Homo sapiens: one gene and its partner. The protein of the gene in region 2 purifies or fractionates together with the protein of the main gene of each other region. This does not show direct contact. Each region holds a gene or a part of one and is shown on either strand. Other genes may lie near its edges.

Region 1 (3,826 bases), on a different chromosome or scaffold from region 2:
ATAGGGTTAAAAGCTAAAGGGAGACAGTCAGAAGAATGGAAGAGATACAGGAGAGAAAGGAACAGTGGATGGCAGGTAAGGGCAAGAGCACAGGCATGCCCTCACTACTACTGGAGGGAATGAGGATGAGAGGGCATGGGGACAGAAGAGGAGACGGAGGTCGCTCATGCCTGGTGACTTCACTTTTCCTAGTGAGGTACACAGACAGGGGATTTGCTAATAAGGCAGTGGTTAATTTTGGTAAAGGAGTCTTGAGAATGGTAAAAGTTTGAACAGGGAACAGGAATGGATGCTCACCGTGACTCTAACACCTAGTTCAGGTTAAAGCCCTCATCTAACCTCATTTAACCTTATCACCAAAACCACTCTTTCTTTTTTCTTTGGAGGAAGGAGAAAGAGGAATATAAAGGAGAAAACTCAGAACTGACATCTTGACTCTATCTCTAGCTACAACTAAGACCTTTATTGCCCCACCCAGATATTTTACCCTCACTCCTTAACCAAAATTCCAGTGAATAGCCATGTGGATGCATCCCACAAGTGGATAAAAATGTCCTTTGATATATTCCTGATACTTAGAACCAGTGTAATGGAAAAGTGAGCTCTTTCCAAAAGGAATATTTGTCAACACTTTTCATGAGAGAAATCTAAAAAAGAAGTGCATGCATGACAAGCAGTCAAAATGACATGAAAAGTTACCGTGGATTCTGAATTCTGCAATGCTGAGATAAGAAGATTCCCCATGGGCTCAGAGTGGTTCAGCACAGGTTGGGCAAGGGCTGAAGGCCAGAGAGGTGATTTTAATTGTGGTGGAACTTTCTGGGATCCTACATCTTTCCACAGATGATAGGTTTGCACAAAGAGCAATTATTGCAAACAATGTCTGGGGAGATGGGTTAAATATGCCTCTGGTATAGTTAGGCTAAATTGTAACTGTGAAAGGCTGTGTTCTCTGTGACTTTTTATATTCTCCAAACAAGAAAGAACAGAGAGTGAGAGATATAAGGGTGATTTTCTATTACAATCGTCAAAAGTAGAGAGCAGATTTATGGGGGCAAAGGGAAAGAAGCATCATTATTTAGGGTATTTGAAATCTTATTACATTTAGCCCTATGTAAATTTCCAGAACAAATGCATAATGATTGATGACTATTTGCTTCTCTGTCATCTATCATTTTTCTAACCTGGTAGAAATATAAGAAATTGACCTACCTCTTGCCCCCAACCAACCAGAAAAATGAAGAGGCATCAATAAGAAAGATAATTGCTCAAAAGATAAGTTGTACTTCAAGCTTTTAAACTATTTCTATAGGGAGATTTGCTCCTGTTGAGTGCCTGATACCAAAGATGCATTGCCCATCAAGGGCATGGCTCCCTGACTCACCCAGCTGGAAGTTCCCCTCTTACCGGCTGCATTGTGCTGGTGATACCAGATTAACTCAGGGATTGATTGAAAGGCGTGTCTTTCAGCCACATACCACTGTCCTGAGTCATTCTTTTTTATCTGATAATGTTTTATGGCAGCCTCCGTACTTCTACAATCAAGAAAATGTGAATTACTAGAAATGTGAAAGATCAATTTGGATCTAAGCCAACTCATTAAACAACAGGACTCCAGTTCTAAAACTCATCCTAGCAACACTACACTGAGAAGTAGATTGGCTAAATTCAACAAGTGCCCCCCCATGCCAAGAAAATTCCTCAACTACATTATTGGGGCCTTAGATTCAAACATAACTTCAGCCAAAGTTGTCTGAGTGACAAGACCAGTGTTCAGAAAAGTAGATCTCATAATGAATACATGTAAGTACATATTGAATATCAAGTATTGGTTAAATGAATGAACACATGCACTGTAAGCAATTGGAGATGGGAGACAAGAAGGGAGGAAAAACCAATGCCAGGTGCATTAGTTAGTAGGTTACTACTATGGGCAATTGGGGCTCAATACTTGTAGGAACCTAGGAGAGACTGGGGAACACACCTCACAATTGTCCCACTGAAGTGCAAAGAAGCTGAGATATTTATCCACCAACTCCCATTCTCTTTAACCTAGCATTGCTCCTGGGATGTTACCTCTCAGGCACTTTCAGCTTAGCCACGGGGCGCACAAGTTCCCACAGCCAGAGAACATCCTCAGGCAGACAGACACAGGAAGCTTTCTGAGTGCAAGAGACTTTTCTGCAAGTGAATCCCAGAACAGACCAAGGGATATGAGGAAAGCGCCCAACAGCGTCTACTACAACTAATCTCCCCCTCTTTACTTTATGGTTGAGAAAAGGAAGACGGGAGAGGTTAAGAAACTTATGCAATGTCACACAGAGCATGCTAGGGATATATCACGGACTGGTTGGTTTTTCTAACTTCCAGGTCAACAATCTTTTCCCTAAGCTAAGCTCTCACTAACATTCTCTATGTGATGGAGACTGTGCCAGGGATTATTTCTATAGTAACCAAAATCACAAGTGCTTACCTTCTAGCTCCCATAAATACGGAAATTGTGTAGGATCCTAAATGTCTTGAATCTCTGACAATAAATGCACCTTCTTTAGACTGCAAAAAAAATCATTTATTGAATAAGTCTATTCCTTCTTAGAAAGACAAACCTACAACTCAGGGATGAAAATCAAAGCTATATTGACTTACCATAAATAAGTGACCTGCTATATTATTAATATGAAGAATTAGATTGTCTTTACAAGTACACAAAATCTTATCTCCCTTATAGATTTAGAAGTCACACCTATAAAATAAATTGTAATTGGGACATGCATTTATAATGTACTTTAGAATACTGTTACTGATTTTTCTAAGAAAAATTCTCTATTTGAAAACCTTGTACCCTACTGCTTATTTTTGTTATATTGACCAGAATAATAGATTAAAAATCACTGTAGAATAGGAAGAACACTAAGACAGACTGACCGGATTGTACTTTGGAAGAAGAGCAACAAGGTGACAGGGAGGAACACAGCTGGGCAAGCAGGGCGTGGGGAAGGACACCAGAGTTCATGGGAAGTAGAAAGAAAGAACAGATATGGGGGAGTCTGAAAAGAAAAGCAAAAGGAACCATATTAGTTGCAGTAGGGGTATGGGAAGATAAAAAGAAGTGGTAAAAGGGAGAACATGATAGTAAATCTGAAGTTATGTTATAAATTAGATTCCTATTAACATTCTTTGGGAGATGCCAATAAAGCTGTAAATTGCTTTCAAAGAATCTTGAATGTTGCATTGTTTAGATTCGTTTGTTTGATATTGTAAAATGATTTAGCTTTACTGAGTGTGCTTATGCTCATGAAGAGGGAAAATACATCTCAGAATCTTGTCAAACCCATAGAAGCTTACACTTATAAAGTGCTGGTATTATTTACATTGTGCTTGAGAATTGCAGAACCCAAATAGCATGGTCTGACCCTCAAGGTAAACGTACTACATTAAGTAGAGTCTTCTCCTTCTCATTCCAGATATTCACCCAGATATAAGCCTTATTCCCTGGTCAAATTGTTTTAACCAAAGAATCTCTTGCAGCCATTCGAAATAATAAAATCTAGCTTTTACTATATTCCTACAATGTACAAGGGTACTGTTACATACCACAGAGGACACAAGATGTAAAAGACAAAGATGAAAAAGTAAAGTTGAATGTATTGTGTATATGTATATAATACACACAAACAAGTATATATAATATGCATATAAAGTTGCATATGTAGTGATAGCTTTATAGAAACAAAGTAGAAAGGGTACAAGCAAGATTTCCTGACTACAAAGCAATAAAACCAGAAATTAATAGCAAACTGAAAACTAAAAAAGCTCCTATCACCTA
Region 2 (3,826 bases):
GGTCCCAACTACAGGGTAGAGGGGGAATGGCATTAGAGGCTGCAACAGGAAGAAAGGGGCTTCCAATTCCCACACTGAAGCAGAGTTCTGGCTTTCATGATATAAGTATGTATTAAGCACCAACTATATGCCATGGATTAAAGTAAATACTAAGTACTACAAATATAACAGCAAAACACATAGGGGTTCTTCAAATAACCTCCATTCTGAAGAAGATACGTATTACATAAACAATACATAGGTATATATTTCTAAGAATATGAAAGTAAAATAAAATATTCTGTGAAAACATATACCATTGCACAAAGCAACAAGGAGTGAGGGTTGAAAATACTGCAGGTTTCTCACATGAGATACCTTAACAAGTCAGTCTGGGAGGTGGGGATAGGGTGAGAGTTATCTAAGTGAAGGTAAGACGATGTATGAAAACCTTAAGGTAAGAAGGAATTTAGGATGATTCAAAGAATTTAATACAGGCCAGTGCGAGGCATGGTGGCTCACGCCTGAGAGGCCAAGGCAGGAAGACTGCTTGAGGCCAAGAGTTCCCGACCAGCCTGGTCAACATAGCAAGACCTCATCTCTACAAAAAATTTAAAAATTAGCCAGGTGTGGTGGCACATGCCTGTAGTCCCAGCTACTTGGGAGGATCACCTGAGCCCAGGAGGTCGAGGCTGCAGTAAGCTGTGTTCATACCACTGTACTCCACCCTAGGCAGCAGAGTTAGACCCTGTCTCAAGAAAAAATAAAAAAGAAAATAAATTAAAAAAAATTGGTCAGTAAACGCAGAGCCATACAGAGCACATTACAATGTGTGTGTGTGTGTGTGTGTGTGTGTGTGTGTGTGTGTGTGTGTGTGACAGGTTCTCACTCTGTCGCTCACACTGAAGTGCAGTGGCACCATCACAGCTCACGGCAACCTCCACCTCCCAGGCTCAAGCCATCCTCCCACCCCAGCCTCCAGAGTAGCTGGGACCACAGGCGCACGCCACCATGCACGGCTAATTTTTTCTATTTATTTTTTGTAGAGATAGGGTTTCACCACGTTGCGTAGGCTGGTCTCAAACTCTTGGGCTCAAGCAATACTCCCACCTCAGCCTCCCAAAGTGCTGGGATTACAGGCGTGAGATATCACGCCTGACCATATTACAGATGTTTAAAAATGTGACCCTAATATGTAGGAGTAGCCATGGAAAGGCTTTAAGCAAAGGACCAAGAGCAAACTTGTAGATCTGTGTTTTTAAAAATCACTCTGGATGGTATAAGAAGAATGAATTGAAGAGAGGAAAGAAAAGGTCCAAGATGACTAAGTTAGGAAGCTACCACAGTTGTCCAAGTGAAAAATAATGGTGGCTTGGACCAGCTGGAGCAGTGGATACAAAAGAAGCAGACAGTTTCAAGACATTAGATTCAAAACAGTAGGTCTTAGTGACTGAGCACACACAACTCCCACCATCTGGCCTGGGCAACTAAGTGGACAGAGGTATGACTACTGAGATGGGCCTCACTAGAGAAGCAGAGGTGTGATGGGTGGGGAAAGCATATCATTAAGCTCAAGTAAAAGGTCAAAGAGGTAGTTGGTTATGTGATCAGGTTTTCAGAAGAGTCTGAGGTCCTGAGAAGAGTCTGCTCAAATATGGGCATCTCCACTGAGATAGTATTTAAAAGCATGGACGTGGATGTGAGTCCGCAGGAGAAAGCAAGGAATGAACAAGAAATTTATCAATCCCAAGCCCTGAGGAAACAGTAACATGCAGAGATTAGACAGAAGAGGAGTAAACACCAGTGAAGAACAGGAAAAAGCGTTGGGCCAGAAAAGTAGGAGGAAAACCAGGCAAGTACAGTGCTATGGAAGTGAAAAGGAATGTATTTCAACTAGGTAATGGTCAACGGTGACAAAGAACACTTAAATAAGGATATTAATGATGCTTAGGTTTCCAGGCCAACTCACAGAAACTCATTTCACATATAGGTGGATTACAGCATTCCACTATCTTACAATAAAGCAGTGCAGTACACTGGTTATCACATAGGCTCCAGATCTGCAATGCCCAGGTTTCAATCACAGCACCACTATTTACTAGCTATGTAGCTGTAGGTATAAATTACTTCATGTCTCTATCCCTCAGTTTCCTCATCCATAAAAGGATGGTAAAAAGAATGCCTACCTCAAAGGATTTTTATAATGAATTTTGATAAATGAATGTATGTATTCATTTATTCATGATAAATGAATTTTGATAAATGAATGTACGTGTGACTTAAAACAGCTAGCACAAATTAGTTGCTAGTGATGTAAATGACAGCTACTATTACTTACAACACGGTTTCCATGGGAAAAAACTTTCTGAACTCTAACAGTGGAAGTTTGTCTGAAATAACCTTTCATTAACTTGAGATTGTTCTTACGCCTTACAAATTATGATCTATAAGGCCTTTTCCCAAAAACCTTGAGGAAAACTCTAGATTTGAAATGTATCAAACAAATGTCCATCATATAGAAACTGACAGGTTTTAGAAGAGCTAATCATTACTTTGGTTTTTCAGAGGAGTATTTATCATACTCATTATACCTCATACTAAAAAAAAGTATGCATTAGGAATTCTAAAAACTGGTGCCAAAAGTTATTTCAAGTTAGAAAGGCAAAAAACAGGCCAGGCACGGTGGCTCACACCTGTAATCCCAGCACTTTGGGAGGCCAAAATGGGCGGATCACCTGAGGTCAGGAGTTCAAGACCAGCCTGGCCAATGTAGTGAAACCCCATCTCTACTAAAAATACAAAAATTACCAGCCTGGCCAATGCGGTGAAGCCCCATCTCTACTAAAAATACAAAAATTAGCCAGGTGTGGTTAGCTACTCAGGAGGCTGAGGCAGGAGAACTGCTTGAACCCGTGAGGCAGAGGGTGCAGAGAGCTGAGATCACGCCGTTGCACTCCAGCCTGGGCAACAAGAGCGAAACTCCATCGCAAAAAATAAAATAAAATAAAATAAATAAACCTATTTAAATACAAAATATTTCCATTCCCTTACTTTCTGGTGCATATTCAAATACGAACACATCGATTATCACCATAAAACAGCCTGCCTCTTCCTGTTGTGACCAAGATATAAGTATCAAGTACAGAATGCGGCAATGGATCTGCAGACTCTTGATGACCTTCTTATTTCCCAAGCTATGCAAAGGTATTTACAACATCCAAAACTGCACCCCAAAAGGTATTTCCAACTGCGTGGTGTTCAGCAAAGGACATGTTCATTCATTTAGTTCCTAAAACGAACTGAAATTAGCATAAATAAATGAAGATTTATATGGCCAGTCCTTATCCCTGTACTTTCCAAGTACCTAGCAAGTACTCTGAGAAATATTCAAAAATCTTTCTATAAGCCCCATTTAAGGTATAATGCTGGAGTTTCCCACTCTATTTTTCCACTGTTAGTACAATAAAACTACCTAATAACTAACAGAGCTGTTGTATTCAAAAAAGTATTGTTTCAAACTCATGAAAAGCTGTTTATCATGTACCTTCCCATCAACTGATGAAAATGATGTATTTCAAGACCAAGAAGGCATAAAGTAGGATGTTAGATCCCTGTCGGCAACAACTGAATGTCATTACCATCTGTCAGCTTCTGAATAGGTTACAGGAAACAAGGTGACAGACAGGCTAATTCTTTATGGATAAGTATCCATATTACATCATCACAACTAGTACTCATTTGCACCTTCACAAGAAACTGCCACAAAGGGGAACAAAAACATTCAACTGATATGTGCATTATGAAAAAGCTTTTTAAAATGGTATAAAAATATAAATAAGCTTCTGAA

The links.
Region 1: the proteins of QSER1 (region 2) and TXK fractionate together in Homo sapiens (co-fractionation; one large-scale study listed by BioGRID). This does not show direct contact.

What each region holds. Positions count from the first base shown.
Region 1 is NC_000004.12:48,092,670-48,096,495, forward strand, and holds part of TXK (tyrosine-protein kinase TXK), read right to left. Parts: intron 2,556-3,826; exon of another isoform or gene 2,554-2,555; coding exon 2,474-2,553; intron 1,536-2,473; coding exon 1,408-1,535; intron 1-1,407. UniProt on the Homo sapiens protein: Non-receptor tyrosine kinase that plays a redundant role with ITK in regulation of the adaptive immune response. Regulates the development, function and differentiation of conventional T-cells and nonconventional NKT-cells.
Region 2 is NC_000011.10:32,895,513-32,899,338, reverse strand, and holds part of QSER1 (glutamine and serine-rich protein 1), read right to left. Parts: intron 1-3,826. UniProt on the Homo sapiens protein: Plays an essential role in the protection and maintenance of transcriptional and developmental programs.